Linked DNA regions of Homo sapiens: regions 2 and 3 are each linked to region 1. Evidence: fine-mapped expression QTL. A gene starts in region 1. Each other region holds a variant in brackets. All regions are shown on one strand. Distances are from middle to middle. Region 1 holds the start of SHISA2 (shisa family member 2). Region 2 overlaps ATP8A2 (ATPase phospholipid transporting 8A2). Region 3 holds the start of LOC105370122 (a long non-coding RNA gene).

Region 1 (8,179 bases):
TAGCAAACTCCATTTTAAAATTAGTTTCTGGCGGGGCACGGTGGCTCACGCCTGTAATCCAAGCACTTTGGGAGGCCAAGGTGGGTGGATCACCTGAGCTCAGGACTTCAAGACCAGCCTGGCCAACATGGTGAGACCCTGTCTCTACTAAAACCACAAAATTTAGCTGAGTGTGGTGACGCGCACCTATAATCCCAGCTACTCTGGAGGCTGAGGCAGGAGAATCGCTTGAACCCAGGAGGCAGAAGTTGCAGTAAGCCGAGATTGTGCCACTGTACTCCAGCCTGGGCAACAGATTGAGATTCCATCTCAAATAAATAAATAAATACATAAAATTAGTTTCTTAAAAAAATCTTTTAGGAGCCATAGAGAGGGCACTACAAGGCTTTAGAAAATAGACGCAGGTTGACAGGGACAGAATCAGATGGGAGGTGCCTGCAGAATGCCTCTGAGCCACTTTTGTGGAATTCTACCCTATGTTACCAAGAGCCTGCATTTTCTGATGTGTTCTTGCCCCAACCTCCTGGCTATATTTTTGGGAAATACATAAGCACAGGGGTGGATTGGGTCTTACTGGTCTTGGCAAAGCATAATGCCAGCCCAGAGTCGGATGGGGCAGCATTTTAGGAAGGAGACCACGCCTTTGAGGTCAGCTCTATGAATACCCTTTCATCATCCATTAGAGCAGCCGGGCTTTCTAATTATGCTCCTTTTCACTGTTCTGGTATTGCTGGAGTCAGTGTTTTTAAAGTATAATACCAGGTGGAATTATGGAGAAATAATGCCCTGTAAGTAAAACAATACTTTATAGGTATTTAACCAAAGGCTGACTGTGGAATATTTCCTGGAGTTTCAATGCTGAACAGAGCAATTTCTATATATAGCGCCCCTTTAGCAGGTAGAAACATTTGCTACAGTGTCTGCAGCACAGCTGGCGCCCAGCAGTAGAACTGTCCTAATTACACTATCACTTCAGGCTAACTACGGATCACTGGAGAAGTGGATGCAGGCTTTTTCCTTGGCGTGTTATAAATATTTCATTCTCTAAATTAAGACACCAGCCCTAAATATGTTATCAAAAAATAAATTAATAGTAGTAAAGCAGGAAAAAAAATGTACCCCAATCATAGCAGAAACTAGCTGAAACCAGCCTCAGTCCACATAATGAGTTTTGGGGAGAAATAAGTGTTCTCTTTCCAGGATTTTTAATTGGAAATGTAAATAACTACACAGGGATAAGGAATGTAACGCTACTATAAGCCCCCCGGCAGGCTTAATTAGGCATGTTGCCCTTCACTGCAGAAGAAAAGTGAAAGAAATACAATTTTTAGGAAAAAAACGTTTAAAAGTAGCATGAAGAAGGCATCCATGCACAACACAGGGCGTCATGAGAAGTCTCGTCCTGAGAAGTCCCGACTAATCCAAAGCCATCCCAACTTTTTGGAGACCATTAATGAGCCCAATCTAGCAGACATCTCACTGTAGCAGTTCGGGGTCTGGCTCCCTTCTCTGGGCTTTCTTCCATGGCCACACAGTCTGCGAGACTGAGCTTGCGTTTTAAGACTGCGCTGGTTCTGGAATTACGCTCTCTTCAGATTCAAGACAGCAGAACAATAGGAGTAGCATGCTAATAAAATGCTTGACTGCGAAAGGGAACGGCACTGAAAAGAGCTGTCTCTCACGAGGTCCTGGGAGGCAGCTCTATAAACACAAACTACGCTGTGCCAAAGCTCAAGCAGCCCGAACCCAGGCTCAGGATGCTAGCGAAAAGCCTCCCAGGTAAACACAACGGGCCCACAAAGAGGAGGAGCCGCCCCCTCGGGGACACGTTTGCCATTTTACCTCTACACCTCCCCTCCCCCGAAATAAATAACACACACACACACACACACACACACACACACACACACGGAGTGACTGGTGTAGACACCCCAGGGAGGCATTCCGGAAGGTTTCTGAAGAGTGAAGTGCAACCTACCAAATTCTTTCACGGGTTTACTTTCCAACTCTGGCTTTGGCAATTTGAAAGAAAAAAAAAATCAAAGCCACAAAGAGCAAGGCTGGGCACTGCTCCGATGTTACACCTACTAAGTCTGACGTGGTAAGGAAAACAGTCCAGAAGCCCCACAGGCGGGCCGCTGCAGGGGAGAGGGGCCGCCGCGTGGAGAAGATGGGAATCCGCGGCGTCTGGCACGGGGCAGCAGCCCCGGGAAAGCCCTGAGGAGCTGCCTTCCTTTCGGGGAGCCTTCAGGGGAGCACCGCTGCCAGGCCCTCACGGGTGGGGGCGCACCCTCGCCGTCTCCTTGGGTACCCCTAAGACATGAAGCCCTATGGAGACAGGAGACGCCAGAGGGGCCCGGAGGACCCTGGTCAGAAGGAATATGGGGGCTGTCTGTGGCCCACACTGCCTTAGGAGTGTGATTTTGTTCGGAAAATTAACTCTAAGCCACCCTTTGGCTGACAGATGGAGAAACTGAGGCCCGTGAGGGTGAATTAGGGACCCACACCGACCAAATAATAAGCCAGAAGGCAGACTCCGCCTCCTGGTCCTAGGCCCTTTCCTGAATTTCCCCCCTTCAAACTCCCAGGTCCCTGACGTCCAGGCAACGCCAACCGTCCTCCCTTTCGCGCTGGGCGCAGGCCGCCCTACCTGCCGAGCCGTCGGGGCCGTCTTTGTCCGCCCGGCCAGGCTCGCCAGCGCCCTGCTGGCGGTCATTGTCGCAGCCGCCCTGGTCCAGGCGCGCCTCGGCGCTGGAGCAGCAGTAGCGCAACGCGCAGCTGCCGCAGCAGATGGTGGCGTCGCCGCCGTCGAAGCGCTCGGGACACTGGAAGCCGATGCGCCAGACGCCCTGCGCGTCCAGCCAGCCGTGGCAGTACTCGCCGCTGGCCCTCGCCCCCGCCGCCAGCAGCGCAGCCAGCAGCAGCTGCAGGAGCGAAGCGGCGTTCCAGGATGAGGAGACGGACGAGCGGCGAGCGCCCCACATGGCACCACCCTGGGCGCGGACAGCGCGTCTCCAGAGAGCGCAGGACGGTCTCCGAGAAGTCGTGGCCCCGGCGACCCCCGGGCCTCGTCACTGACTGTCCCGCGGCGCTTTCCGCGCGGGCCACTCCCCTCTGCCGCGACGCCCAGGAGGCGACGACGCCGGGCCCTAGGTCCAGGAGCTCCTAAGCCATCCCCGTCCTCAGCCGGTGGCCCGGTCCCCTTAGGGACTGCCTTATGAGTTGCACTCGCTGATGGAAATCTCGGGATGCAGTCAGAAGGCCCCCGGGGCTGTCGTCCGGAAGCCTCTGGAGGTTTCACTGGCAACCGGACCCTCCCTGAGCATCCCCGAAGGGATGCTCACTCGAGCCGAATGACCGCTGGGCGCGCCGCCGCGGACCTGGAGCCAGGGCTCTGCGCAGGGTTTAAGCCTCAGGGTCCCGCGCGCGAATCAGGGCCCGTCTCCCCTCCTTTATTCCCTCCTCGGGCGGGTAGAAGGGGCGAAGGCGGGCAGTGCACGCAAGGCTCTGGGCAGCAAGTGACGCAGCCGGCCGCGCTCAGCCTCCTCTGCCCCGAACTTGGTCCGCATGGCTCCGGCCGGGCCGCCCGGGCAGCCCACGGGGGTGCAGCCCCGACGCTCCACTCGGCGGGGCCGACGGCCAATCTTCCCAGCACGTCGCCGAGGGAGCGCTCCTGACCCCGGGAACGTCCAGGACGCAGGCGAGGGTCCTGCGCGCCCCCAGCCGCAGTCCCGGGAGCCTGCCCAGCTGGCGGCGGCCGCGGCTGCTGCTGGGCGCGGATCCAGGCGGGCGGCTCGCCCCGGTTCCCCTTCTCCGCCTCCCCGGCTGCAGCGCGGTCCCACAGGAGCCCGGCAGCCTCCGGCCGGCTCTCCCTCTCCCGGTCGCTGCCTCGCCCTCGGGAGGTGTGCGCACCGATGGAAGCCTCCCACGGAAGTTTCTTTCCTCCGGGCTACGGGAGAAGCCGAGCGCAGCAGCCGCCCACAGCCTCGCCTCGCCCCGCCCGGCGCCAGACCAGCTCCGACTCCGCTCGCTGCCGCGCTGAGCCGCGCTCTTATAGAGGCCGGCGGCTCCCCGGCGCGCATGCGCGCTGCGCGGCTCCCCCCCACCCCCGACCTCAGGGACGCCCGCGGGCGCCGGGCAGCCCCTCACTTTCCTACCCCGGGCAAGGAGAAAGGTGTGGCCAAGGGCGGGGTCTGCCTGCTGGAATAGGCGCGGGAGGAAACCCAACCTAAGCAATCCAGGCCTCGCTAACACAAATAACAATAATAACGGAAGAAACTCAACTTGCTTTGTGAAGATCTTTGGCATTCAACATTCGGTTCGATTCTGCAAACTTCTCAAGGGATTATGATTACTTTCCACTCTGCAGATCATAAAATCGCCACTCAGATGAACTCTCTCGGCTTCCAGCAGCTGATGTCCTGGCCACGGTTGGTCCCAGGCCCTGTGCAGGAAGAGCACCGATGTTTGTGGCAGGGTTCACACGCCTAGGGCTGTGTTTGGTGGACTGGAGGCCTCCACCACAAGGTGGAACGGAGAGAGTTCAGCAAAGATGTCACACATTCGGCCACGGTGTGGATGATCTGTGTCCCTTTTTCTTTCTATATTTGGGTGTGGTGATTTATCGGATTCCAGCAGGAAAGTGCCTCCGTCCAACATGTGGCCTTAGTGGTTTAGACAGCTGCAGTCAGGAAGAAAACAAGGTTCAGACAGACCAGAAATTCAGCTTTGATGAAGGAGAAATTAATAGCTTCTCTCTTGCAGAAGCTGGAACAACAGGTGCTGATGTTATTAAAGCAGCAGTGCTTATTTTTAAAGGAACGAATGCCCCTTCCCACACCGTCTGGGAGTCAGCAGACCTGAATTCTAGACCCAGCCCTACTAGCAGGGAATCACTGCGTTTTTCTGGTCTCAGTTTCTTCATCTATAAAGTGGAGCATAGGATGTGACGATCACTAAGGTCCCTTTCAAGTCCATGACTTCAGAACACAGGCAGTTTTATTCACAGCAAAGACACTCAGGTTCAAGCAGCCATTGGATGCTTGTGTATGCCTGGTTAATGTGAAGATTCAGACATTGTTGATTATTCTTCCACTTGCCCCAACAATGTCAAATCCAAGAAAAAAAACCCTACCCTATGTCCCTGCTCCCCAACACACACCTTATTCTTTTCACTAAACCTCTCTCCAAGCATTGCACTTTGTTTTCTTGCAGTTTTTTGGTTGTGTATCGTTTTAAGCTACACAAAATTATATACTTTAAATGCACTATTCACCAAATGTCTTAAGCTAGTAAGCTAAAAAAAATTTCAATGTCAAGAAATCATTCATTCAAGAAATACACGCCATGCACTTACAGTGTACTGTGCTCTGTGCTGGGTACTGGGACTCATCAAGAAGCCAGACAGCATGGCCATTTCCTTCAAATAGGGCCTAAAGTCTCCAGGGTAAAATACAGAAATCAGACAAAAAGACAAAGAACTGAATAAGCAAAGAGAATGCAAGTATGATCAAAGCTCTTACCCACAATGAGAACAGCATCAATTTAAGCACATAATCTAGGTTAGGGTGGGGAAGGAGGTCAGAAAAATCATCAAAGGAGTAACACTTAAAAAGAGACCAGAAGAAGCCAAGGGAAGATTGAGTTTTTCAGAATGAGTCATTTTCTTAGAAGACACCATTAGCCAACATTTATTGAGAGCTTACTATGGGCTAGGCACCACGCTAAGAATTTCATGTGCATGGTTTCATTTAATCCTCACATCAGCCCTATAAATAAGACAGTATTACTATCCTCATTTTACTGGTGAGGATACTTGCTCAATCCCTAAAGATAGAGAGCGTCGGTTTGCCTGGACTGCACCCAATTCTTCCTGACTCCAAACCCCACTCACCGCACTGCTGATCACCACAGCCGCCACTACAGAAAGCCCAGGATTGATTAACTGGGAGTCCTGTACAGATCATGAGATGCTCCTATGGCAGCACGAGTTGATTTGGGTAGTGTTCAGAGGGTGAATACTTTCAATTTTGCCATTTGGAAAAACAATTAATGCGAGAGAATTGTACTTATTGTTCTATTTAGAATTGTATTATTTCAGACAGTACCTATGCCTATAACCTCCTTCCAGGATCCACTTATCCTACTCACCAAAACATCCACAATTTGTCAGAGTTTATTTATGAAGAAAAAAAATTGTTTAACATTTCATATTGGAATTGATTTGGTGACTGGATAGTGCCACCTTTAAAACACAATGTTTTTGCCAAATAGTCTACAATTTAATCTATAATTGGTGAACTTAGAAGTATGGCGCTCTGAGCAAATTCGTCTTTTTTTTTTTTTTTAATTACTGTGTTTCTTTTCTTCCTTAAAAGTTAAGGAGAGGCCCTTTCATAGTTACTTTACGTAGTGGTTGACTGTCTTCAATGCTGAAAGGTCCTTTATGTCACTTTGTCTCTCTTGTATTATCGTTTCTTTGTGTATCTGGAATGTTGAACTGAAATTTTATAAAATAACTTGCCAAGTATTTAGTGAGGTTCTGCATGGGAGGTGCCACTGGGAGATATTAAAATAGGCTTGTTCCTTCCATAGGAAATAAAAAGAAATTCCCTCATTGGTCTTAACAGACAACCAAAACTATTTCACTCGTTTCTTCTGAGAAGCTATAACTAGTAATTACAACATATAGGTAGTAGTAATCATAATTTATGATAATCAAAATGAAATGTTAGGCAGTCTGCCAAAATATATTGAAAAACATATGAAAGAGTGCAGCCCTCTTTTTAAAAAAGTTGAATTCTATAGTCACTAACTGAAAAAGTATATTTTCAAGTTATTTTGCCTTTCAGTATGTGCCTGTGCATATATATATAAATATATATATGAATAAAATCCAATTGATTTAAAAGCAAACTTCTGACATATCTTCACTAGTACAAATAGCAAGTCATATAACTAAAGAAATGATTACTTACAACTTTACTAACTGGAGTTGATACAAATCAGATGGAGGTAATAATATTTCATTTGGCTGGCAGTTCTAAAAGCTGCAAGATCTACAGTGTTTTTCTGCAAGTTTCAGCAAGAGCAGAAGGTTCTTACCATCTGCACATCCATCAGCAGTCTGTTTAGGGAGAATGGCTTTCACTGGGTTCATTCATTTTTTTTTCTCCTCTTCTCTCATAAATAGAAATAGTACTGAAAATTGGCATTTGGTTTACCAAAAGTTCTTTTAAGTTAGAGTGTTTTTGTGAAAACCCAAACAAATATATTAATTTACATTTATTTTAATTTTGTCTTCTGTTTACCTAAACTTATGTTCAAAAATGTTCATAAATTTATGAAAAAAAATTGTTCTTGCTTTAAAAGTTTTAATTTTTCACCCTCCTTATTTTTATTGTAATTGACATACTGACTTCCAGAAAAGTAATTTCCATATTTTCAATTATATTTCTTCTCATTTGTCATTATAAACTATTGACATAGTTCTCTCTCATCCCCCCTCCTTACTCCATTGTTTTACTGAACCCCCTTTAATTTTGATTTTGATGTTTACTATGGATATATTTCCATTTTGGAGATATGGAGTTTCACGGAGGGCTTATTTCACTAATGCCTTCCTATCTAAAAGAATGGCATAAACAAAAGCAAAATGTGCGAAGACTTGCAAATCATATATACGAAAAGAGTCTAATATCCAGAATATAAGAGAACTCTTACAACCCAGAACAAAAAGACAACCCAACCAAAAAACTGGCTTGAATAAACATTTCTCCAAATAAGATCTACAAAAGGCCAACAAGCACATGAAAACACCTTCAACATCATTAGACGTTAGAGAAATGCAAATCAAAAGCACAAGATACCACTTGACTTTCACTAGGTTGACAATAATAGTAATGATAATGATAATGGGAAATAATGTTGGTAAGGTTGTGGGGAAATCAGATCCCTTGAATGCTGTCATTGATGGGAATGTAGAATGGTTCAGCCACTGTGCAAAACAGCTTGACAGTTCCTCAAAAAGTCAGACATAGAATAACCATATGACCCTGCAGGTCCACTCCTAGGTAACCCCAAAGAGATGAAAACATATGTAGATACAAAAACTTCTATATAAATGTTCATAGCAGCACACTTACAATAGCCAAAGAGTGGAAACAACTAAAATATCTGC
Region 2 (8,179 bases), 40 kb before region 1:
AAATTTTAAAGTAGTTTAGATAAAGCTGAAGGGAGAAGGGGAATGAAAAACATGGGAGAGATTGAGGGATGTGGAAGATAGAATGAGATCAATATGGAGATACTGTAGATAGAAGCTCCAGGAGAAGGTAAAATAGAGAACGGAGGGGAGGCAGGAATCTCAGTGTTTTCTGTAAGTGAAGATCCACAAACATTCAAGCTGTTGTAGCTTTCCAGACCTGAGCAGCTGAACAGGATATAAAAACAAACCTATAACCAGTCATACTAAATATTGTCATGAAACTACAGCCCATCAAAGACAAAGGGAATTATTGTAAAAGCAACCAGAAGGAAAAGACAGATTCCCTGCAAAAAATGGCAAACTGAGTAGCCTTCAGTGCTGAAGACAAGAAGAGATGGAAAAATCAGAGTTGTGTGTTCTGAAGTGTTTGCATTATTGAAGAAGGGGGTTAAATTATTTTCTAACTTTTGACCTTGTCAAATATGAAGGCTAGAAATGTAAGGGTGACCACTGAAATAAATAATAAAGTATTCCTCTAAACCAAAAAATAAAAGCAAAAAACATGATAAACAGGAAGCATAAAATAAATGACACCATTTATGCGTATTTTTAAATATAATTGGATATTAATTACCCATACATATCTATGAAGCAACAGTATGAAATATAGACTGGAAAGCTGTTTCTTTTTTATGGAAGGGAGAAGAATGGCGAGTATAAGGAATTTATATTTAAGACTTTATTATTTTATTAAAATCTGAAGTAATCATAGTTAGGCCTGGTCCTGACATTTGCAGGACTTGGTATAAGAGTACCAGTGGAGACCTTGAACCACACATAAATATGTGAAAGTTACAAATCAAGCTAGCAAAGAATTCTGTCCCTTCATGATGACACCTTCATAAAGCCTGGTGCGCTTCCTGATTCCTGGCTTATTTGAAGGCCTTAGCCAGAGTAAGGCAGCGTGGGAAAGAGCTCACTCCCTGGACACCCTCTCCATGCTTCAGAACCCCAGCTCTGCCCTGCACTGAGGGCATCTGCGCACGTGTGGTGTGGTGAACATCCCAGCCCACACATCCAGGTTCTGTTCACATCCCCATGCAAAAAGCACCCCTTGGCCACCCCCACAGACCTGGGGTGTGCACATTGGCTATATGGTCTACTTTTAGGGGGATGGAGCTCAGGATGGAGTCAAGTTAGCCTTGGATGGAGGCCTGGGTGGTCATTGAGCAGGGACTTCTAGGGTCCCAAATAACTGAGGTGGTGGATGGCAGGCCTGGGCCATGGGAGGGTGTACCTCCTTGGCTGTGGACCCCTCACAGTGTGTGGAGGAAGGGCTGCGGCACAGAGTGGGTCCCTCTGAAGCAAGAAGTCACATTTTTAAATAATATCTCATTATAGGCTGAGCACAGTGGCTCATGCCTGTAATGCCAGCACTTTCGGAGGCTGAAGTGGGCGGATCACCTGAGGTCAGGAGTTCAAGACCAGTCTGGCCAACATGGCAAAACCCCATCGCTACTAAAAATACAAAAATTAGCCAGGCCTGGTGGCAAGTGCCTGTAATCCCAGCTACTCAGGAGGCTGAGGCAGGAGAATCGCTTGAACCTAGTAGGCAGAGGCTGCAGTGAGCCGAGATTGCGCCACTGCACTCCAGCCTGGGCAACAAGCAAGACTCTGTCTCAAAAACAAAAAGAAAAAAATTAATTATAAAAAAAGAAGACAGAGAAAAGCATTCACCACTCTAGGCGGCATCTAGGCGGCGTCTGCCAGCACAGGAGCCCTGCCAGCAAAGCCCCATCTGACCTTTGTCAAGTTATTTGACACAGCTGAGTCTGTTTTCTCACCTGCCTGGTGAGAGGCCAACATGTATAATTTCAATGATCCCTCCCATTTCTGAGGATCTGTGACATTCTCATAAGCCCCATCATGAGGAGGAGCTTCTGGGATGGCCAGGGTGGTTCAGGAGGCATGTCCCTGTGGTCCAGGGGCATGGGGGCAGAGCCTAGTCCTGCATGGTCTCCAGCTTCTGAGAAAATAATGTGTCAGTTGCCCATTATGTCCCCATGTGGGGCCTGGCTGGTGAGGCTACCCTGGGGCCAGGCAGGGTGAGGGGCCCCCTCTGCACACAGTGCCCTTTATTTTGTGCAGGAGTCATGGCCAGTGCTGGGCACGTGTTGGACAGGGAGGACAGGCCCTTCTTTATACCTGCCACATTCTGAAACCAGGCAGCACAGGGAGCTGTGGACAGTCGGTGATGGCAGCTACACAGAGGGACAGGTGCCACGGGCTCACTCCTCCTGTGTTTGCACAACCATGCCTTCCAGGGCAATTGCTCAGCCAGACCCGGTGAGATTAATTTGGCCCATGGAAGAAAGAGGAGACGGGAGGGAGGACCAGTGTGAAAGGATGGAGAAAGTATTTTTCTTCCTCAGCCATGAGACGTTTTGCCAAGCTTAGCTAGCTGAGGCTCACCCTTAATTGGGAATGAATTAAACATTGTTATTTCAACCAAGGCACTCAGAAATGCCCTCTCCTGGAAATTCAAAATGAACTTCAGCTCAAAGAACTGTGAAGAAGAGCCAGGGCCCCACTCCTCTTTCGATGGCCCTGAGGGAGCTAGGTGGGTCTGCAGTCATGGGAGGGGCCTCCTCAGGCTCCAGGCTCACTGATCGATCGGGGGCAGGGTACATGGGATTCAAGCACCTGCAGCTTCTTCTACAACTCCGTATCCCCTCACGTTCCCACAAACGTAAGGGGGGTCTGTATTTGTCTGCCTGGGCTGCCGCAATAAAGTGCCATAGGCTGTGTGGCTTAAACAGCAGAAATTGAGTTTGTCACAGTCTGGAGGCTGGAAGTCCATACTCGAGCTACTTACAGATTGGTTTCTCATGCGAGCACTCTCCTTGGCTTACAGGTGGCTGTGTGCTCTGTGGTCTTCCCTCCGTGTATGCCTGTGTCCTCATCTCCTCTTCTTATTAGGACAGCAGCCATGCTGGATTAGGGCCCACCCTGATGACCTCATTTCACCTTAATTACCACTTTAAAGGCCCTGTTTCCAAATACAGTCCCATTCTGAGGTACTAGGGGTAAAGACTTCAACATGTGAATTTAGAGGGGACACCATTCAGCCCATAATCTATTATGCCTCTAGGTCACTGGCAAACTCCTGTAATGACAAGCGAAATGAGAGCCTGATAGTAAAAATCAAAGCACTTTGACCTGCCTGGGCAGTTTTCAAGCAGTCCCTTTGGGCTTATAGAAATAAACAGACTGGGCATGGTGGCTCACACCTGTAATCCTAGCACTTTGGGAGGCCGAGGCAGGAGGATCACTTGAAGCCAGGAGTTTGAGACCAGCTTGGGCAGCAAAGCAAGGCCCTGTCTCTGCAAAAAATGTTTAAAATTAGCCAGGTGTGGTGATGCACACCTGGGGTCCCAGCTACTCAGGAGGCTGAGGTGGGAGAGTTGCTTGAGCCCAGGAGTTCGAGGCTGCAGTGAGCTATGATTGTGCCACTGCACTCCAGTCTGGACGACAGTGAGACCCCATCTTTTTAAAAAAATAAAATAGTATAGAAATAGCCAAGCTCCAGAACAGTTCCACATGTCTTCACAGCAGTGGCAACCTTGAAGGGAATAGGTTCAGGAAAGGCAGGGACTGCTCCTTAGCCGTCTGTTTTAGAAGAAAACTCGCCTTGATGTTCATTGGGGTTCAAAATAATCAAGTTCTGCAGAACGAAGCTGGGCTGTGGCTGGGGTCCTGAGGCCTCCGCGGGGCTCTCACCCCGTGCAGGCAGGGGGCTGCAGGCAGGAGTGAGGCGCGGAGATGTTTACCCGGAAACAGGCCTCTCCTTGGAGAAGTGTCCTGAAAAGCCCACGGTCCCGCGGGTATGGACCGGGCACATGCACACTTCAGCGAGCAGGAAGCGCTGGCTAAGGGAGGGACTGGAAACGGCGTTTTCCACAACAGGGAGCCAGCATTGAGGCGCCCAGATGGCATCTGCTGGAAATCACGGGCCGCTGGTGAAGCACCACGCCTTACCCGACGTGGGGAGGTGATCCCCCACCTCATCCCACCCCCTTCTGTCTGTCTCCTTGTGCAACCCGAGTGTTCAGGTGACAAGAGACTGACGCGCTTGCTTTATCCGCAGGCTGAACGAGCGCGACCGCCTGATCAAGAGGCTGGGCCGGAAGACGCCCCCGACGCTGTTCCGGGGCAGCTCCCTGCAGCAGGGCGTCCCGCGTGAGTACCGCGGGCGGGGGCTGATGG[A/C]GGAGTGGGTGTCGGTGCGGGGCGGGGGTTGATGAGGAGTTGGGGGAGCGGGCGCTGATGGGGGGCCGGGTGAGTGCTGACGGGGGGTGGGGGCGGGGCGTGCGTTTGGAAGTGGAACTGCAAAATGTGTATTTGGCCCCAGGAACGTGCAGCTTGAGTGTAGGCAATTCCCTGGGACCACAAAATCCGTAAACTTAAAATCCTGGTGTGGTTATGATCCTTCCGTCAGCCTCCCAAGAGGAGTTTTTTAAGGTTGAAGCAGTATGACTTTTAAACTGTTGCCCCTAAAGATAGCAATATGAACTGTTTTGTGTAGTGTTGCCATATTGATTGAAACAATGACCATCATTGGGGAAAAACATCATGCTTCTCCCAGGAAGGCTGCCCCACGTCTAAGCCTGGCGTCCCCCTGCCACCCCCGCCCCCACCTCCAGATTCCAGAGGAGAGTGGGAGGCTGTGAAACATCCCCTCTCCACTGCCCCCGACTTTGGAGCTCAGGGGGAGCTCATGGGCTTGTTTTTAGCAATCCAGTCATCAGATCCCAGCTGAGGCAGATCCAGGCCACCTTCCCCAGGGCCAAGGCCAACCCAGCCCTGCCTCTCTGTGTCCTGCGGCCTTCCCCAGCCCCCTCTCCACCCCCATCACGTGCACACGCCAGCTTTTCCTCCCATACTTACTCCCTGCCTCCCTTTCCCTTCCGGAGGAGTTTAGAGGGAAACGACTGGTAGAAAGAGATGAGTTGGGCCGGACGCGGTGGCTCACGCCTGTAATCCTAGAACTTTCGGAGGCTGAGGTGAGTGGATCACTTGAGGTCAGGGGTTGGAGACCAGCCTGACCGACATGGTGAAACCTCGTCTCTACTAAAAATACAAAATTAGCTGGGCGTGACGGCACATGCCTGTAATCCCAGCTACTTGGGAGGCTGAGGCAGGAGAATCACTTGAACCTAGGAAGCGGAGGTTGCAGCGAGCCGAGGTCATGCCATTGCACTCCAGCCTGGGCAACAAGAGCGAAACTTGGTCTCAAAAAAAAAAAAAAAGAAAGAAAGAAAGAGACAGATTTATGAACGTGAAGAATCATTGTTCACACAGTACAGGCAGTGAAGGATCTGTGTTCTGTTGAGCTCTGCCTGTCAACAGGTATTTGCAGACTTTCTCAATGGAGAGAGAAGGAGGGAGACAGAGTATCATTGCTTTTCAGTAATCTACCCCCTGTCCTCACTTTCCCATGTGGAATATCGTATGGGAAGAAGGGGACTGACATGCTTCTGTCCTTTAATGCTCCACTGCCCTGGGAGGTGGGTAATGCCACCCCAAGGACACAAAGCAGAGGCTCAGGTCAGAAAGTGGGTGGCCCAGCATTGCTCAGTGGCATGCCATGAGGTCTGGATTGCAGCCTCAGACTCTGGCCCAAAAGAGAGGTAAGTCAAGAAGTTTGATGGGACAGGAGTGCTAACTGTAGGGCAGCCCTCTGGAGATGGGCTGCCTGGGTTCCTGTCCCTGCTCCCCTGCTTTTTCGTGACCTTGGGCATGTTACTTAATGTCTGCTTCTGCATCTGTAAAGTTGGGTAATATGAGAACTTACTGGATGCCAGAGGTTCAGTGTAGGTCCTGCCACCCACAGCTGCACAGAAAGCCAATCACTGAAACAACAATTATAGCCAAGGAAGAAGGCTTTATCTGGTGCTATAGCCAAGGAGGTGGCAGATTAGTCTTAAATCCATATCCTTGACTGACTAAAATTAGGGGTTTATATAGCAGGGAAGAAATGTTAACAATGTGTAAGAAAACAGGAATCAGTAGGGGTAAGGAAGCAATCAAGATGAATGAGGGGCTTAGCATCTCGTTGTCTGGATGAGATCATTGGGTGAGTTTCAGATCTTTGCTACTTTTCGAGAGGCCTGTGGGTCCCTACCTAAGGAAGGAACTCAGATAAAACAAATACAAATGTCAAGCTTTAAGACCAGAAGGGTCATTTCTATGTTAAAAAAACAAAAAAACAAAAACAAAACTGTCTATGGGACTATTGGGTTGGTTTCAATTAGGAGGATTAAATGAGATCATAAAGATAAAGTGTCTATATAGGCAATATAGGGTCCAATAAATGTTGGGTATTATTATTCTGCCATTAGCTGAATAATTTTGGGAAACTTAATTTCTCTAAATTTTTATTTTCTCCTGTGGAGAAAAAAGAATTTTAATGATATACATCTTACACAGTCCTGTGAGTCTTCATGACAGCATGTGTAAAGCACCTTCTGTATGCCAGACACAGAGAAAACACATACAGGTTCCCAGAACTCTACAGGGTCTGTTCTGTTGAGCCGTGTTGCCTCTCTGATGAATGTTTCAAAATAACCATAGACAGAATATACACGATATATATGTTGTGATCAAAGACCGAATGAGAATTTTTATGGGAGAGTCATAAATGTCTTAAAGACAACTACTAAATGCTTTTCTTAAGTCAATATTTTGAAGGCCAAAAAAAAATCTACTGAATAAATATAAGAAATAAGAAGGCTTCTGAAATCACACCACATTTTTTAAACATTCAGTGACTAGTACCAGAACCTGATGGATAACTTAGGACGTTTCTGTCACTAACAGCCAGAGAAGATCGTCGGGTGGTCAGAGCTGGTCCTGGGGTGCAGGATGGGCATATAGCAGGTCTCAGCCTTTGATGTTCCGCCTGGGTCTGTCCAGGAAACTAGCAGGAAAAACTCTAATCTTGGTAGTATTTTAGTTCCTGTGAGCCACCAACATACAATATTTGTAATCAGCATTTCCTACACAGTCTGATTTCCTCTTTGTCCCCATGGTCTTCTCATTTCTATGGCTATTAGGAATCTTTCCAGACAGGAAACTGCTATTTTCATTAAGATGCTATCAGAGCACAGATTCAAAGGAATGCTACTTAAGGGGAGTTTTATTCCAAAATAATGAAAAAAAAAGACATAATTTTATGGATTTCACCAAATGTTCTACCCGGAGAAGACAAAACAACTAAGAAATCCGTCTTTCCTCCCACCTCCTTTCACCTACACGATTCTGTTCTCCATTCTGGCTGTGGCTGTTTAAGAAAGCAGATGCTTTAGGAAGCCAGCCAGGGAAAGTTCAGTTAGTTGGGTCCATGAGAGCTCCCTCCAGGCCCCCATCAGGACTTTTCTGGCTGTTAGGACTTCCTGAAACATGAGTGAAAGTAGGGAGTGCAAAGAGCTGGAGGCTTCCTCCGAGCTCCCCGTTTGGATGCAAATGACAGTTAAAGGTTCATTAGGCAGAGCTGGGGAGCAGGTCTGTATCTTCATCCGGTGGGACAGAGGCTGGGCAGGCAGGACTGGTTGAGGGGTGATGGTGTCTGGTTTTCCAGTAAAACTCCTCCCATGACAGCTCTAACTCCCGCCAGGCCTGGTTTCTAAGAGGAAAATGTTTAATCTGAAATTTTATCTGAACATGGGAGGACTCCCTCTCCCAAGATAAACCTATCAGGCCATTCTCCTTTCACTCTTGAATTGTAGAGTCCACTTTCATTCTCGGTTAAGGTTAAGAAAGTCTTAGCGTACAACACGCTGGAAATGTGGTGGTAGGTGCAGCCAATGGGAACTAGGGAGGATGGTGGGAGACATTTAGCACAGACCTCACGTTGCTCTACTTACCCTGGGAGGTTTACAACAGGAGGGGCAACTCTTCTCTGCCTGTCTCTTCAAAGGGAAACCTCGAAACCCTTCCCATCCCAGAGGGGCCAAATCATCCCGCTGCAATCCCATGGGAGGCCCTTGTGGCCATGGCACTAATGCACACAGAAGAAGTGACAGAGTTATGAGCTGAAGAAACCCCCGGAGTTGGGTTTCCAGTAGACACAGGCATGTTATGGAAAACAAGATAAATAAAAGAAAAGGCTTTTGCACCTTCC
Region 3 (8,179 bases), 78 kb before region 1:
TTCATTTTATAGCAGCTATGCTAGCCACTGTAAAAAATCATCAGTCAACAAGACAAAAAGCACTGTCTTCCATAAGCTTAAGTTTGTGAATACATGGGGATGGGGGCTGATTTTACCGCAGATGTACATATAACCACTACGCGTGGTTGAGGCTTGTTCAGGGCTGTTCTATCCATCAGACAGCTGAGGCATAAGGCTCAGGACCTGTTAGAGTTTCAGGGACCTACCGTGCTCTTTGAGACCTGAAAAAAAACATATTCATAAGCTCCAAAAATTAGGGAGCAGGAAACATTGCATAATGAAATTAATAAATGTTTAAAACCCTATAAAATGCATATCACTCTTAACCGTTAAGTTTAGTAAGGACAATAAGTTTATTATACTTAGAAACAACTTACAGGCTCCCTTATATATCAAGTATACACAATGATTGCTGAGGGGGCATAAGTAATTTCTAAGTAAAATGAGAATTTCAGAGCAAAACTCTCAAACTCCTCTCAAACATTTTACAGGACGACATCACATATAATGTGGTGTGAGAATGTGCTTTAGAGTGTTTGTTCTGATGTGGGGAGGGGTCATCTGGCTTGAGCAATCAAGAAAGGCTTCATGTTGGAGATGGATGAACAACAGGCTTTTGAGGATGGGAGGGTCTTGAATGGACAGAACTGCTGAGAGTCTGATTTGGGCAGAGGGAGTGGCACATGCCAAGGCTCAGGTCCAACACTGTGTGCAGGGACCAACCACCCAGTTTGGAGGGCCACATGCATTTTGCAGAGATACAGAACCTGCGTTTGAATTCTGGCTTTGCTACCTACCGGTGAGGCCTTGTGCAGGATATTTCATATGATCAGATTGTCTCTTCATCTGTCATAGAAGAAGGCTAATATTTTCTTTGGGGGATTAAGGTTCGTGAAATATGTACAACGCAGCATATTGCCTGACCCATCTCAGGTGTGTAAAAGGTCAGCTGCTCATCTTCACTTTGGCAGGAGAGTCATGAGCTGTCGGCCTTGAATTGTATTGAAGGAAGTCGTGGGCTGTCAGCCTTGAAAGAGTGTGTGAGCCCATTTTTGCTTGTTGTTGATAAATGAATGTTATTTTTAAAATTCACTTATCCTGTTCAAAATTCATTTTTAAATGTTCAAATGGATATCAGAAAATAAGAGCTTAAATGCGGTTTCCTACCGTCTACATTTGAAAGTCTTATTTTCTGGTTCCTTGTAAATTTCACTTTGTAGTTCATATGATGGGGTGTGTGTGTGTGTTTCTGTGCACGTGTGCGCGCACACATGCACGGGTGGGCCTGCATACTCCCGTTTGGTTGCACCATTTTCCTTTTCTTCTAGTCCCAGCATCTTGCTTCACTTTGGAATTCCTAGCCAGAACACAGTTTGGGGGCTCTGCCGCTCATCCTCCTCAGTGACCCCCTCCCATTTGTTTTTCTCACTCCTAATTACTCACAGATTTTCTGGGTGGTCCATCTGCAAACTGGATAATGGTGGCGTGCTGCTCTCTGCACAGAGTCTATGCTGTCCTGCTTGGCCTCCTAAGCTGCCTCACAATTGTTCTCTTACAACCTTTGTTTTCTTCTTTCACACCTGCTTAGATTCCTGAGGGGTGGAGGGTAGAGACTAAGAAGTCTGTCTTCAGCTCTGTCCTCCCTTCTAAAGATCTTATAGACCCCCACCTCTTTGAGGGGTCCTGAGTGTTTTTGTCTCTTCTCACCCCTCCCTGTTCCTTCTTTCCTACCCTCATCTGATCTTTCAGCTGATTTGTGTATCTCTCTAGCTGTTAACCGCACAGGAAACTCTGTCAATATTTGCTGGCTGACTGACTGGCAATACCAAAGTCTAGTGAGGTGGTAGTGAGGAAAGGACGGTGACTTCAGTGCCAGATGAGCTGACACACTGGTGCCTGTGTGTCAGCTCGTGTGTCGGATGTGCACAAAGTGGCCACAGAGAGATGCTGACAGTCACCGGGCCTCCAGGGAGGGGGCAGTTTATCTCATTGCTTGAGAGTACAGCTAACATAGACTCACACATGGAGAGGCATCTGTGATGTAAGATTAGCAAATCTTACCCTTGCAAAGATGCACAGGCCAGGAGCCCATCCTCCCTGAAACCCACTCCCTCTCCTGCCTTCCTGTGCCAGCCAAGCCAGGGCACCCCCAGGGGTCCTCAGCATCCCTAACCCCAGGGGCTTACTCAGCTCAGTCCTGACAGCATTGCTTAGGGCCCCTTAAAGGACATTCTGCCAGGTCATAAAACCCAGGTCCAAGTCACTGGCAAATATTCTAGCAGTTTTTCTTAGGAATGTAACCACAGGAAGTAGAACAAAAAAAATCTGTATGCATTAATCTTTTTAGAAAACCCTCTTGTACCAAATTTACAATTACAATTTTGAAATGGTAGCCAGGGATTCTAAGTTTCTCTCTGTGCCTTTTATTCATTCAATAAAATATTTTCATCCAACATTTTATTGAACTTGTCTAAGCCTCATACTTTTATACTATTTTGATAAAGTTAAATTTTCATGAACATGCTTCTGCACTTTCTCATTAGTAGATCTTGTCTTCCAAAATCAACCTGTGGAATTGATACTTTAATAAGCCTGTTCTCATGAAGAAGCAGATAATGAGAAAGGGTGAGATCAGGGAATTAGATATCCAGAAAGCACAGTGAAGAAAGTGCTTTAGGGAGTGAATAAAATGTTTGTCTTGATTTTAGTTTGTTCTTCTTGAAGGAGTGTTTTTCACGATGTGGTGTTTGTGCGCCTTATAGACACTGGACACGTGTGACTGTTGGGGTTGATCAGAATACCTTTTCCCAAACTGTCTTCCCAGTAATCCCTACCTGGGGAAGCAGGAACCCCCCCGCACCGCACATGAAATAGTCTACCCTGCATGTCGTTATTTTGAGTGTCTAAACAATGAGGAGCTAAATGGAAGAAAATTCTTTGTTTTTTAATGTCTTGGTAATATCTTTCCTTTCTTTATTCCTGAAGTGTAAGCCATGCAAATTTCTTTCCTGGTGAAAGAAAATCTATCTGTGGCCACTCACTTTTACAGATACAATATAAACCGATGACGGCGTGTAAGATGACAGACTTTTGTTCCTTAATTTTTTTTGGAATGAGATAAGTGGTTGCCCTGTAATATTTTAGGTACAATGGCAAGCAAGAAAAAAAAGGGGGAATATATTTGTTGAAAACATCTAGTTTTTGAGTTATGCATAGCCTGAATAAACAAGGAGAGCTTGTTCTATTTCTAGATCACCTTTCACTCTGTTCATCCCAGTTGGTGGGAGTGGGGTGGGGTGGGGTGAGCCCAGGGCTGATATTCTCCATTGTCAAGGGTAAACAGACCCGGTTGCTGCCCCTGCCTTTGCCAGGAAGGCAGTGGATTATCTTCCCCTTAAGTGCTTTCCCTGGGTGTAGCTTACGCTGTGACTTTGGTGAAGGTAGCTGTGTGGCTGGTCTTAAACCTTCTGGCGAGCCGTCGCCTCGTCTCCCTTCGGTTTTGTGTTCTGTGAACATCTGTGCGTGGCCCTGTGACCCGGGGTAATCTGGACGGCCCATCACCGCCAGGGAATTCAGGAGGGAAACCTGACTCTTGCTCTGCGGCTTCCATTTCATCCAGGCTGCCTCTAAACAGGCAGGGCCCTGGTCACAGCCTTGGACAGGTGGCCTGGGATCCTAATGGAGCTCTCTCTGCCGAAAAATAGGAACAGAGCCTGAACCACAGCAGCAAGATTTCAGACAAACCAAAGATTGTTCCTCCACTCCAGGCAGTGCTCTCGAGTGCTCCTTTGAAAACCAGTCGTATTAAAAAAATGAAACAACACAAACTCCCGAATGCATTCTGAGTGAGTACTCAACTCAAAAATACCTGTCATGCTTTGATCTTTAACGGAAATCCTTTGATCTTTAAAACAGTGTTGAAAAAACTGTTTAGTATCATCACACCTCTAAGTCAAAATCAGTCCCACTGCCAGGCTGAGCATGTCGCTGAGCCAGCCTGAGGCAGGAGGGATGCAGGCCTTTTGCACCGGACTCCAACAATGACTGCGTCACTTCAGGAAATCGGTTTTTTCACAGTACTGGCCGTTGGCAGTGCACATGTGGTGCATCTCCCTTTTGCTTTTGTCCCACCTCTCCCACACTTTCCTCCTAAAATACCTATTATTGGCTTTTTTTCCAGCCAAAAGGATAGGAAATTAGGGCATCCTTTCAGCAAACCTCTCCAGGCCAGGTGGCAAATGTCTGCTTCCAGCACCTGGTTGAGATTTATTTTCCTTCCAGCTGCATTTTTTTTCCTCAGCTCTGTCATGAAGCAGAGAAGCGAGTGCAGACGGCGGAGACAGATGACCTGAGCTGGGCTCTAGCTTAGCTGTGTGGCCTTGGCTGGGTTATTAACTTCTCTGAACTTCAGTTTTCTCATCATACATTCGCTTTGAGGTTTAAATAAATAATGCAGATTAAATCTATAGCCTATGTAGATGTTCAGGAAGCGTCCCCTAACTGAAAAGCTGCATAACAAGTACATTTCACTGGCCGTGTTTACC[A/G]TCTAACATGTAAGCCTGGGGAAGATGTGAATGCAGCAGGCTCTCCGAGTTGCATCGTCGGGGTGTGCCCCCTAGTCTGAGGTAAAAGGGAGAAATCTAACAGAATCCCAGGGACATGGGAGTGGTGTGGACGAATGGCCGTAGTGAATGTTGGATGGGGGTGTGGTGGGGACTGTAGTGAGTTCTGAATCTTGGTGGTCTCCTCAAGACAGCCTTTGGATTACAGCTTCAAGGAGCTCCTCTTTGTGAAGAGGACAGTGTACCCAGTCCAGGCTGTCCCTTCTGCCCCAGGATCTCTCGCCAGCTTACCCCTGTCCATCTGAGCTGCAGTCTGTCTGTAACGTCTATGCCGGTCCTTGCCACTCCTCCCCAGAACCAGCCCTTCCTTCGGAGTCTCCTGCTCCATCGGGATGAATTTTTCCCACACTGCAGACTCGCTCTCAGTGTCCACACTGTCCCCTCATGTCCTGCGCATCCCTGGGTGCCAGGTCTCGGCGTCTTCCCAGCATCTGCACAGTCATCCCCCCTGGTCCCTTGGGGTGGTGCCTGTCCCTCTTCACCCACCATCCCACAGCTGAAGACATCCTTTGTGAAGCACAGCCTCATCATGCCACCTTCTGCCCTCAGCCCACCACCTGCTGAGCCAGTGCAGACCAGAACCACAGTGATTTCCGCCTCTGCTTCTCTTCTCACGTGTGCGACCCTCAGCTTCCACCTCCCCTGTCCTCCCCACGCTGTGCCCTTCTGTGGTTGGTGCTACCCTTGGCTCTTCTTGATTGACTGGTTTTATACGATGGTGTTGCACTGTGTCCCAAGCACTGGGCCACACGTGGGCTACTCAGGGGCAGCAGGACAGGCCTTGTCCTGGGAACAAATGCCGTCCACCTCAGGACACACTCTCTGATGTCACCAACTTCCCTGCTGTGCTGATGGCAGCCTGAGCTTCCCTTAAAACACTCATTTTAAAAGTTTTATTTTCGACCGGTTGCGGTGGCTCACGCCTGTAATCCCAGCACTTTGGGAGGCCAAGGCGGGCAGGTCACGAGGTCAGGAGATGGAGACCATCCATCCTGGCTAACACAGTGAAATCCCGTCTCTACTAAAAATACAAAAAAAAAAATTAGCCGGGTGTGGTGGCGGGCACCTGTAGTCCCAGCTACTCAGGAGGCTGAGGCAGGAGAATGGCGTGAACCCGAGAGGCGGAGCTTGCGGTGAGCCGAGATCGCGCCACTGCACTCCAGCCTGGGGGACAGAGTGAGACTCCATCTCGAAAAAAAAAAAAGAAGTTTTATTTTCATTATTCAAATATTCAAGCATACATAGTAGTAGGGAGATGAGCACAATAAGCTCTTATGAAATCATTGCCCAGGTCCAATCATTATCAAGATTCGGCCAGAACTGCTTCATCTCACCCCTTCTGCTCAGAGTCTTTCTTTCCTGAAACATAAAGCAAATCCCAGGCATCACGACAGTCCACCTATGCTTTAGGAGGCATCTCTAAATATTCCACGAGACTTTATAACATCTGTGATACACAGCATGCTTGTTTATGTTATTAAATGTAGAACTCCAGTCCCCATGATCACATCTAACAAGTTAATAATAATTCCTTGGTATCAGTCAAACAACCCGTCCATAAAAAGACTCTCTGGATGCCTCAGCCCTGCCTTTTAGGATTGATTGATTTGTGTTAGGATCTGGGCAAGGTTCACACATAGCATTTGGTTTCTGTGTTCCTCAAGTTCCTCTGAATCTGGAGAACTTTCTCTTGTTTTTTTGTTTTGTTTTGTTTTGTTTTTAAGATACAGAGTCCCATTATGTTGCCCAAGCTGGGCTTGACTTCTGGGCTCACTCCATCTTCCTGCCTCAGCCTCCCAAGTAGCTGGGATTACAGGGATGTGCCGCCATGCTGAGACCTGTCTTCCTGGTTTTTAATGCCATGGACTTATTCATTATGCTCCACTTTATTTTTTTATCATAACACTGATCCCCACATGCAGCAAATGAAAGTTTCCTCATGTGCAGAAAAGGCGATGAGGCCTCAGAGAGATGGAGTCACGTCTGCTCAGTGTCACCCAACTAAAGAGAGGCAAACCTGCATCTTCTTACTTCAGGCCTCTTTCCACCAAGCCAAGATGTGGAGAGCCACCCAAATGCTTGCATTTGCAATTACATCTTTATTAGAGAGACTGGAAAGCCACGGAGCCCCCAGAGAGACCAGGAGGGGTGCTTACCTTCTAGCATGGTCTGATGAAAAGGGTCACAGTCTGCTGTCTGGTGAAGCTGCGTGCAAAATCCAAGGAAGCTAGAGAATTGTAGTTGCATGTTGTTGTCTTTTAGATCCCTACATGTAGGAAGAACTTGGACCAAGCAGAGAAATCATACCCTCCCCCCAAGAAATGCTGAAGCCAAACCAGCGGACAAATTCAGAGCAAATAAAGGGAAAAGAGTGTGTGAAAGCGGCTCATTTTGTTTGTTTGTTTGTTTGTTTTTTGAGACAGAATCTTGCTCTATCGCCCAGGCTGGAGTGCAGTGGTGCGACCTCAGCTCGCTGCAACCTCTGCCTCCCAGGTTCAAGCAATTCTCTGCCTCAGCCTCCTGAGTAGCTGGGATTACAGGCACCCGCCACCATGCCCAGCTAATTTTTGTATTTTTAGTAGAGACGGGGTTTCACCATCTTGGCCAGGCTGGTCTTGAACTCCTGACCTTGTGATCCACCCCCACCCCCACCCCCCTTCCCTGCCCTCGGCCTCCTAAAGTGCTAGGATTACAGGCATGAACCACCGTGCCCAGCCGCAGCTCACATTTTGATATGGCTCAGGAAAGAGAAGCCTTGCTAAAGAAGCCAATTTCCACCCACAGTCACCTTCGTGGAGCCTAGTATGGTCTATGAAAAAATTAATTGAATGCGTTTAATCTTGTAGAGCAAAGAACCTTGGGCAAAGCCTAATGCCGGCAAACATTTTAGTTGAGACAATGGGGAGAGTTCTTAGGAGAACAGCTGGAGAGCCAACGACGCTCCCAGGCAAGGCCAGTTAAAGCTCTCGCCTTGCTGACAAATACTCGCGACAGGTGAGGAAATGCATTAGTGGAACAAAGGGAGTGAATGTGGCAGGAAATTACCGAAAGGCTGCCCGCATGACCCAGCCGGGCTTCTGGTGACTGTTTGCATCCTGGGCACAGGAAGGAGAGGAGGAGGAAAATAAACTCTTCAGGAAGTGAAACACCTCATTAGCATTTAGTTAATGCCTAAGCTGCCTGTGTCAACTAAAAATAATTGATTCTCTGTTATTTTAGGAATGTTGAATTCCAAGAGCCTGTTGTTGTTGTTGTTGTTGTTATTGTTCTTATGGACCGATGTTTAATAATTAGAAAATTTTTAAATTAAATACCAGATGTCATTTATTATTAAGCATCTTGTTCACCTTTAAAACGGTGCTGTGGCTGTATCAGAAATCTAATCAGGAGCTTAGCTACTTGCCCAGTGCTGCGATGAAGAAGTGCAGCATCTTTAGAAAATGCCTGGAGAGAAAATGGGAAGAAGTGTCCTCTTGATGGAGGGAGGTAAGTGTGGAGAGACCATCAGTGTTAGCGGTTTGCTAGTAACACGGCCT

The links. PIP is the estimated chance that this variant, and not a neighbour inherited with it, causes the effect.
Region 2: its variant is fine-mapped to the expression of SHISA2 in spinal cord (GTEx, PIP 0.96).
Region 3: its variant is fine-mapped to the expression of SHISA2 in whole blood (TOPMed, PIP 0.96).

What each region holds. Positions count from the first base shown.
Region 1 is chr13:26,047,992-26,056,170 of GRCh38, forward strand. SHISA2 (shisa family member 2) reads right to left here and starts at 4,025. Exons shown (of 2, transcript NM_001007538.2): 1 at 2,651-4,025. The coding sequence starts at 2,984. LINC00415 (long intergenic non-protein coding RNA 415) reads right to left here. Exons shown (of 2, transcript NR_146971.1): 2 at 4,285-4,681.
Region 2 is chr13:26,008,384-26,016,562 of GRCh38, forward strand. ATP8A2 (ATPase phospholipid transporting 8A2) reads left to right here. Exons shown (of 37, transcript NM_016529.6): 36 at 4,148-4,239. Among named protein-coding and RNA genes, the nearest start is that of SHISA2, 40 kb to the right of the region's middle. RefSeq lists enhancers at 3,477-3,977, 3,978-4,478. The variant A/C (reference allele first, on the strand shown) is at 4,267.
Region 3 is chr13:25,969,748-25,977,926 of GRCh38, forward strand. All of the region lies in intron 35 of ATP8A2 (ATPase phospholipid transporting 8A2), which reads left to right. LOC105370122 (a long non-coding RNA gene) reads right to left here and starts at 7,757. Exons shown (of 3, transcript XR_941764.3): 1 at 7,689-7,757; 2 at 6,800-6,870; 3 at 5,833-6,002. RefSeq lists enhancers at 4,666-5,205, 5,206-5,744, 7,108-8,051. The variant A/G (reference allele first, on the strand shown) is at 4,566.